3 separate regions of the Homo sapiens genome follow, and all the other regions are linked to region 2. The links come from fine-mapping of genetic effects on gene expression. A gene starts in region 2. Each other region holds a variant in brackets. All regions are shown on one strand. Distances are from middle to middle. Region 1 overlaps MRPL48 (mitochondrial ribosomal protein L48). Region 2 holds the start of PLEKHB1 (pleckstrin homology domain containing B1). Region 3 overlaps RAB6A (RAB6A, member RAS oncogene family).

Region 1 (2,761 bases), 190 kb before region 2:
ATGCAATGGAGAGTGGCTGAAATTTTCCAGCAGAGAGGGGAGGAGCTTCTCTGAAGCCTGTAGGAGGCTTTTCTTAACCACAGAAAATGCCAGGACTCTCCAAAGGTATTGCTTTAGGGGAACAAAGAAAAGAAAGCTGATCCCAGTGTCCATCTTGGCATCTCATTTGCTTTCCCATGTTGGCCTAGATCTACCTGAACCAATTCACATTATCAAGATCCCACTGTGATATTACAATACATATTTCAGTTCTGAGCCAGGGCACAGCATAGCCAGCAAGAGCTTAACTGCATATAATACCAGATGCCAGTTTCTGTCATTTTATCTACACAATTTTTCTCACATCCATCCCATTCTCTCAATGCCTACTGATTGAGTTCAGGACTTCATGAATGCCATGAGGAACTATTAAAGATATATCTGTGGGCCAGGAGTGGAGGCTCATGCCTGTAATCCCAGCACTTTGGGAGGCCGAGGCAGGCGGACCATGAGGTCAGGAGTTCAAGACCAGCCTGACCAACATGGTGAAACCCCATCTCTACCAAAAATACAAAAAAATTAGCCAGGCGTGGTGGCGGGTGCCTGTAGTCCCAGATACTCAGGAGGCTGAGGCAGGAGAATCGCTTGAACCCGTGAAGCAGAGGTTGCAGTGAGCCAAGATCATGCCACTGACTGCACTCCAGCCCGGGCAACAGTGCGAGACTCTGTCTCTAAATAAATAAATAAATAAATCTGTGCAAAGGATATACATGAATAAAGCTGTGTTTTGGGAAGCCCAACCTGACTGCACATGAAGGCCAGCCAGGCAGGAAAGGAAAGGAAGTTAGGAGAAACGTAGTAGGGAGGATGGACTACTGTCCATCATCAAACGTTGGCACTCCTATGGCCTAGATTCACTAAGGGATGGCCCAGGATTGTCATTCTTAGGTCCTTGTAGGACTGCACTCTGGTCCCCCAAATAGACTATAGGGTAAATTATGAAACAAGTTTTGTACACAAATGTTCACATTATTACCCCTATTTCACAGACAGAAAACTGAGGTCCTCTGAAGGTAAGTTATTTGCCCAAGGTTACTGAGAAACTTTGCTGGAAAGAGCAGATAAAGAAAGGAATCAAATTAGAATCATAGCCTGTTACAGCCAGAAAGGATCTTAGAGATAATTTAATCTCTCCTTCCCCCTAATTCTACACAAGGGGGAAGTTGAGACCCAGAAAAGGAAAATGGCTTGTGTAAGGTTTAACAGCAAGACAAGGGCAAAGGTAACAACTTTATGTCTATCCAGAACTGGAAGCTGAGTCTGCAGCCCCAAGCCCAGGCTCTCTCCTTTAAAGTGATAGTATCTACCCATC[G/A]CTATAAGTGACATTCTCCAGGGTGAGAAAGTTGGATAAGAATTAATCCATTATCTGAATCCTCAAACAAAAAGGCTGATATGCCTGCAGCATATTCAGCTTCCAGAAATTCTAGTGATGAAAATAACAAAATTTACACCCGAGGATTTGAATGATTTGGGGTTAAGTACTATCAACAGTCCATAATGAGCTGTGAGGTATGCAGCGATTGAGTATGTTTATAACCTGGTGTTATACACTTGAGAGACATATGGACAAAAGGCCTGGCTCTGACTGGGGTAGCAAGGAGGCATGGCCTGATGCTATATAAAGTGCACTAGACTTAGATGGAAGCCACAGAAAATCTGACCTCAAATCCTAACTATCTGCTTAGTCACTACATGACACTGTGTGACCTTTCTAGGCCTCAGTTTCCTCATCTGTAACAGCTAAAGTTATTGTGAAGCTTAATAGAGTGAATTTATATGAAATGGAAATACTAGAGATGTTAGATGAATTCTGGCCATCCTCATTCCAAATATCGGCTCTGAAAACTTCTAGCCACGTGGGCACATCATTTAATCTTTCTCTGAGTCTTGGATTCCTCAAACAGGGTCTTGAATAACCATATGATACTCTAAGGCTTAAATAATATATATGTTTATAAGGCTATAAAATGAAATAATGTCTTTAAAGCCTGGCACATAGTACTTACAGCACCTGGTATATAATAATAAGTGGCATTTTTGGAAGGGCACGGTGGCTCATGCCTGTAATCCTGGCACTTTAGAAGGGTGAGGTGGGAGGATCACCTGAGGTCAGAAGTTCGAGACCAGACTGGCCAACATGGTGAAAACCCGTCTCTACTAAAAATACAAAAAATTAGCTGGGCATGTGGTGGTGAGTGACTGTAATCCCATCTACTTGGGAAGCTGAGGCAGGGAGAATCGCTTGAACCCAGGAGGTGGAGGTTGCAGCCAGGCGCCTGTAGTCCCAGCTACTCAGGAGGCTGAGGCACCAGAATTGCTTGAACCTGGGAGCTAGAGGTTGCAGTGAGCCGAGATGGTGCCACTGCACTCCATCCTGGGTGACAGAGTGAGACCCTGTCTCAAAAAAAGTAAATAAATAAAAATAAAACTACAAAAATTAGCTGGGCATGGAGGTGCACACCTGTAATCCTGGCTACTCAGGAAACCGAGGCACAAGAATTGCTTGAACCCAGGAGGAAAAGGTTGCAGTGAGCCAAGATCGCGCCACTGCACTCCAACCTGGGCGACAGTGAGACCCTGTCTCAAAAAAATAAATTAAAAATAAATAAATAAATGGCATTTTAAAATTATTATTATTTTGAGACAGAGTCTCACTCTGTCACTCAGGCTAGGGTGTAGTGGCATGATCTCGACTCACTGCAACCTTCACCTCCAGAGTTGA
Region 2 (2,746 bases):
CTTGATGCACCCACCTTGTCTACACTTGTTGCGGATGTTGCTGCCTAAGCGGCCGCTACTCGATGCTGCTGCCACCCAACCCGCTGCGCCTGCGCTTTGTGTGCCCCGGAGAGCCTGGGGCATTTCTCTCCTCCCGCAGCGCCTGAGAGCCCAGCTGCCCCCGGGCCCCGCCCTCCGGACCTGCCCACCCCAGGGAGGGGGAGTGACGTGAAGAGATGCTGACCCGAGGCGTACTGGGACTTGTAGTCTACCCCTGTAGAGCTGGGCAGAAGCAGCCCCGCCTGCAATTTTACTTTTCTATTAAGACATTTGTTCACTCATTTATCATGAAATACTTTTTCTTAAGAATCATTGAACTCAGTTCCTAGAAAAAAAGAAAAAGTAAAGTTGCAAGGAGAAGCCAAGCTCCTAGTTTTGCATGTTTTTTTGATGCTTCCCCTTTCCATCCCCAGCTTCCAGTCTAGTGAGGGAGATTACATGGAAACACACAATTGGAGCACAAGGTGTGATTTAACAATGGAAAAGATGAGCCTGACTTTTCTCAAGGGGTTCAGGAAGGCTTCCCAGAGGAGGCTGAAAGGGGCCTTGGAGGATGAGGGGCAGTTTCCTAGGCGACCCGAAATTTCCCCTATGAATACTGTCAGGATGTTGAAGAGTGCCCAGCATTTCCGTGTGTCTAGAACATAAAGCGCAGGGGTGGGGAGGGCATCGGGAGTGTCAGGCGATAGAGCTGCAGGGTTTGGAAAGAAATAGCACAGAGGCCTTGCATGACAGGCGGAGAGCTTGGATGTTAGGACGCAGTGACTGGAGCTGGGGGTGGGAGTTTCAAGATGAGGAGTGAGGTGTGTGATTAGGGGGTCGGAAAGGCCCCTCTAGGGCACAGTGAAGAATGGACTGGCGGGAGCCCACCTGGAGAAAGGAAGACTTTCTGTATCTATCACCTCGGACTGTGATCATTTCCTTCAATAGCTCAGCCCCGCAAACCCTCACCTACCAGCAGCCACAGGATGTCATTCAGAGACCAGAGGATGTCAGGGCCTAAAAGACTTCTGTCCCGTCCCCTATGTGGCAAGGGTGCCCACCCTGCCCTGGGCCCTTCCTCCTGTCCCAGAGAACTCTTCCTTACCGGGGCTGCAGGGCTCATGGTTCCTGGGTGGCCAGGGCAGCATTTCCCAGAAGGCTCCCGCAGCGGGGCATTTCCCTGAGCGCCTTAGAGATAAGGGGATCAGGAAGGTGCTACCAAGTGGGAGGCTGGAGGGGGAGGCAAGGAGGGAGCGCACAGATCCCAAGGAAGGTCGCCCTCTTTCTCCAGGCTCCTCCCAGCCTTTCCAACTGATGGCTCTGACCCTAGGTTCACTAGACAAGTCATCCCTGATTCAGAAGTGGTCTTGGCTCAGCATCGCCGAGGTTCCCGGAGTGGAATCGGGGCGAGGTTGCGGGGGCAGGACAGGAACCGGGCTGGTCCTCCTCCCTAGGTTGGGGGCGGGGCTACATCTTCATTCTTTGGCCTGGCAGGACAGCGCCCATCACCCCAGTCCTGGCTGCGCAGTCTGGCTCTTTAAGCCTTCCTCTCTTGCTCCTGAGTCTCTGTAATCCTGACCTCGAGCTACCCTCGCTCCTCGGCCCTTTGTGCGGTGCGTGCCCTGCTGAGGGATTCGCCATGGCCAATCCTATTAACCATTGAGTTCATCCCCTCTTAGCCGACTCAAGAACCAGCTCTCCCATACCGCGTTTTCATCTCTGTGCCTTTAACTCACTCTCTGTCTGGTTCCTGGAACGTCCCAGTCCCAGCTTCTCCTAGCTAAATTTTCCACCTCCACAGTGGAAGGAAGAAAGGAAGCAGTGGGAGGGGGAAAGAGGCAAGGAAAGAGATATGGAAGGAAGGAAAGACAGAAGGAGAAAAGAAGGGAGGGGAAAGACGGGAAGGCAGGTAGGTAGGGCTGCAGCTGGCCTCGGAGGATCTGCGCCTGGGTCCTGCCCCGACCCAGCCTCTCTCCAGCTCTCCCTGCTCCCCTCCCCGATGGGCAGTGGGGCATCCTTCATGTTGAGGGGCGGGGACGGTGCAATCATCTCCTAGATTTCATTCTCTGGATTTAGCAACCAGATGAAAAAGGAAGGTTCTCCAGCAGCAGTGGAGACTTCAGGGGAAGACTCTCCCCTACCTCCCAAAGAGCGGGCACTATGACGAAAAAAAGAGGAAAGGACGTGGCAAACTAAAACCACAGACACTACTACCGAATCTAAACGTAGCCGGACTTGGCCCATGTCTCTAAAAGCTGGTCAGTGACCCTCTTTGAGAAGCCAATAAGGAAGTGTAGACTGTCCTCAGGAAAAAATCTGCGTATAATTCCTGGGAGTTCATAGACCTCTGAAGCCATGATAGTCATGGTTGGATTGTTTTTAATTTCCAGAGCTGTGTAGATGGGAGGAGAGTGTAGATTGACGAGTGAGAGGTATGACAGTATGTCAGGAATTCCAGCCGCAGCAGTCCTGGCTGTGAGAGACTTTGTTTGTTCAATCAACTAAAACTTATTGAGACTAATAAGCCAACAAGTAACTTTTACATTTCTTTGTGGCTATGGTGCACAGAACCATTGGCAGAGAGGAAAAGATTTTGCCATTTCAAGTGTCCCTGGTGAATGAACAGCCCACAGATAATACATTGTTTAGGAAATAGTGGACTGGCTCATCAAATTCAAATTTACTACTTACATTTTCTAGAGAGTATAATATAATGAGAATAATT
Region 3 (2,761 bases), 87 kb before region 2:
ATGATCTGAGGTAGAACAGTTTCATCCTGAAACCATCCACCGTTCCTCCTCCCCAACTCCCACAGAAAAACTGTCTTCCATGAAACTGGTCCCTGGTGCCAAAAAGATTGGTGACTGCTACTGTAGATTTATCTCCAATTTGGGTTTGCCATTTTTTTTTCTCACTATTAAACTGGATAAACTGGCCAGGTGCGGTGGCTGAAGCCTGTAATCCCAGCTCTTTGGGGGGCTGAGGCAGGTATATCACCTGAGGTCAGGAGTTTGAGACCAGCCTGGCCAACATGGTGAAACTCTGTCTCTACTAAAAATACAAAAACTAGCTGGGCGTGGTGGCGGGCGCCTGTAATCTCAGCTACCCAGGAGGCTGAGGCAGGAGAATCGCTTGACCCCAGGAGGTGAAGGTTGCAGTGAGCTGATATCGTGTCACTGCACTCCAGCCTGGGCGACAGAGTGAGACCCCGTCTCAAAAACAAACAAAAACTTGATAAACTGGGTAAATTCTTCTCCGTTATTAAACTGGAGTTTTTTTCACTTCACAAGGTGAAGTGCCCTTCTTGTCACAGTATATCAGGGGTTCTTGATAGCCACATACATATATACACTTTTTATTGGGAATGATACATATATAGTAAAGTGTTTTACTCTTTGAGAAAAAGATTTTATTTTAAAGTATAACATCCAGTAAAGGGCACAAAGTAGACAAATCTTAAATATATGGCTTGTTGGAAATTTTACTTTTTTATTCACCTTTGTAATGATTAATACCAGCACTTAGAAGATTCCTTGGCTCCCTTTCTCAGTTAGAAACCCCTTACAACTTTTCTTGACTTCTATCAGCATTAATTCTACCAGTTTTGAACGTCATATAAATAGAATTACAGAGTATATATTCTTTTGTATCTGGTCTCTTTCACTCTATGTAGTGTCTGAAATTTGTTCATACAATTTTACATGTTAGGATATTTTGTCATTGTAATATTTCATTTTATGACTATGCCACAATTTGTCCATTCTCTTTATTTATTTATTTATTTTTATTTATTTATTTTTTTTTTTTTGAGATGGTGTCTCACACCCTGTCGCCCAGGCTGGAGTGCAGTGGCATGATCTCGGCTCACTGTAACCTCCACCTCCTGGGTTCAAACGATTCTCCTGCCTCAGTCTCCTGCGTAGCTGGGATTACAGGCGCGCATCACCACACCCGGCTAATTCTTGTATTTTTAGTAGAAATGAGGTTTTGCCATGTTGGCCAGGCTGATCTCAAACTCCTGACTTCAGGTGATCTGCCTGCCTCAGCCTCCCAAAGTGTTGGGATTACAGCTGTGAGCCACCGCGCCTGGCCTAAAATACAGCTGGAGAATTAATTCCAGCAAGGGATGGCTTGATGATTTTTGAAAGACTTGGCTTAAAACAACAACAACAAAAAAATCAATGTAACAGCAGAAGCAGCTTCTGCCAACCAAGACAAGTTTCCAGATGCCATGAAGAAAATAATTGAGGCCAGATGTGG[A/T]CGCTCATGCTTGTAATCCCAGCACTTTGGGAGGTCAAGGCAGGCGGATCATGAGGTCAGGAGTTTGAGACCAGCCAGGCGAACATAGTGAAACCCTGTCTCTACTAAAAGTAAAAAAATTAGCCAGGCATGGTGGCACACGCCTGTAATCTCAGATACTCGGGAGGCTGAGACAGGAGAATTGCTTGAACCCAGGAGGTGGACGTTGCAGTGAGCCGAGATCGCGTCACTGCACTCCAGCCTGGGTGACAGAGCAAGACATCGTCTCGGGGGAAAAAAAAGAAAATCACTGAGGAGAAAGGATAGCTGCCTGAACAGATCTGTTTGTTTGTTTGCTTTGAGACAGAGTCTCACTGTGTCGCCCAGACTGTAGTACAGTGGTGCACTCTCAGCTCACTGCAATCTCTGCCTCCCAGATTCAAGCGATTCTGTTGCCTGAGCCTCCCAAGTAGCTGGGTTTACAAGGCGCACTCCCCCACGCCCGGCTGATTTATTTATTTATATATATTTTTTGAGACAGAGTCTCGCTCTGTCACCCAGTCTGGAGCGCGGTGGCGCAGTCTCGACTCACTGCAAGCTCTGCCTCCCGGGTTCACGCCATTCTCCTGCCTCAGCGTCCCAAGTAGCTGAGACTACAGGTGCCCGCCACCACGCCTGGCTAATTTTTTGTATTTTTAGTAGAGATGGAGTTTCACCATGTTAGCCAGGATGGTCTCAATCTCCTGACCTCGTGATCCGCCCGCCTCGGCCTCCCAAAGTGCTGGGATTACAGGCGTGAGCCACCGCACCCGGCCTTTTAGGTATGGTTCTTATCCTCCCAAAAAGTACATTTTGGGAGTATTGGAGATGTTGATTTACCCAGTTCCTTTCTAATTGATAAGGTTTTTTTTGCATTCATTTTGTATTTTGAGTCTGTGTCAAGCCACTGGCAAAATAGAAAAATAATCAGATATGGTTTTTGCCCTTGGAGAATGTGCTTATTGGTAAAGAAATTGCCAGCATTCCACTACTTTTGACCTCATGACACTTTCATATGGATTAACCTAAAAATATCAATACAGTCCAGACACAGTGGTGCACGCCTATAATCTCAGCACTTTGGGAGGCCGAGGCGGGCGAATCACAGGGTCAAGAGATCAAGACCATCCTGGCCATGATGAAACCCCATCTCTACTAAAAATAACAAAAAATTAGCTCGGCATGGTGGCGTGCACCTGTAGTCCCAGCTATTTGGGAGGCTGAGGCAGGAGA

Evidence for each region. PIP is the estimated chance that this variant, and not a neighbour inherited with it, causes the effect. A credible set is the group of variants that fine-mapping cannot tell apart.
Region 1: its variant is the best candidate, but not a certain one, in a credible set for the expression of PLEKHB1 in whole blood (TOPMed, PIP 0.68).
Region 3: its variant is the best candidate, but not a certain one, in a credible set for the expression of PLEKHB1 in whole blood (TOPMed, PIP 0.58).

Annotation. Positions count from the first base shown.
Region 1 is chr11:73,835,816-73,838,576 of GRCh38, reverse strand. All of the region lies in intron 4 of MRPL48 (mitochondrial ribosomal protein L48), which reads right to left. Among named protein-coding and RNA genes, the nearest start is that of COA4, 40 kb to the left of the region's middle. The variant G/A (reference allele first, on the strand shown) is at 1,352.
Region 2 is chr11:73,645,007-73,647,752 of GRCh38, reverse strand. It overlaps PLEKHB1 (pleckstrin homology domain containing B1), which reads right to left and starts at 1,172. Exons shown (of 8, transcript NM_021200.3): 1 at 1,127-1,172. The coding sequence starts at 1,144. RefSeq lists enhancers at 1-53, 689-1,607 and a silencer at 94-313.
Region 3 is chr11:73,731,848-73,734,608 of GRCh38, reverse strand. All of the region lies in intron 1 of RAB6A (RAB6A, member RAS oncogene family), which reads left to right. Among named protein-coding and RNA genes, the nearest start is that of RAB6A, 28 kb to the left of the region's middle. The variant A/T (reference allele first, on the strand shown) is at 1,511.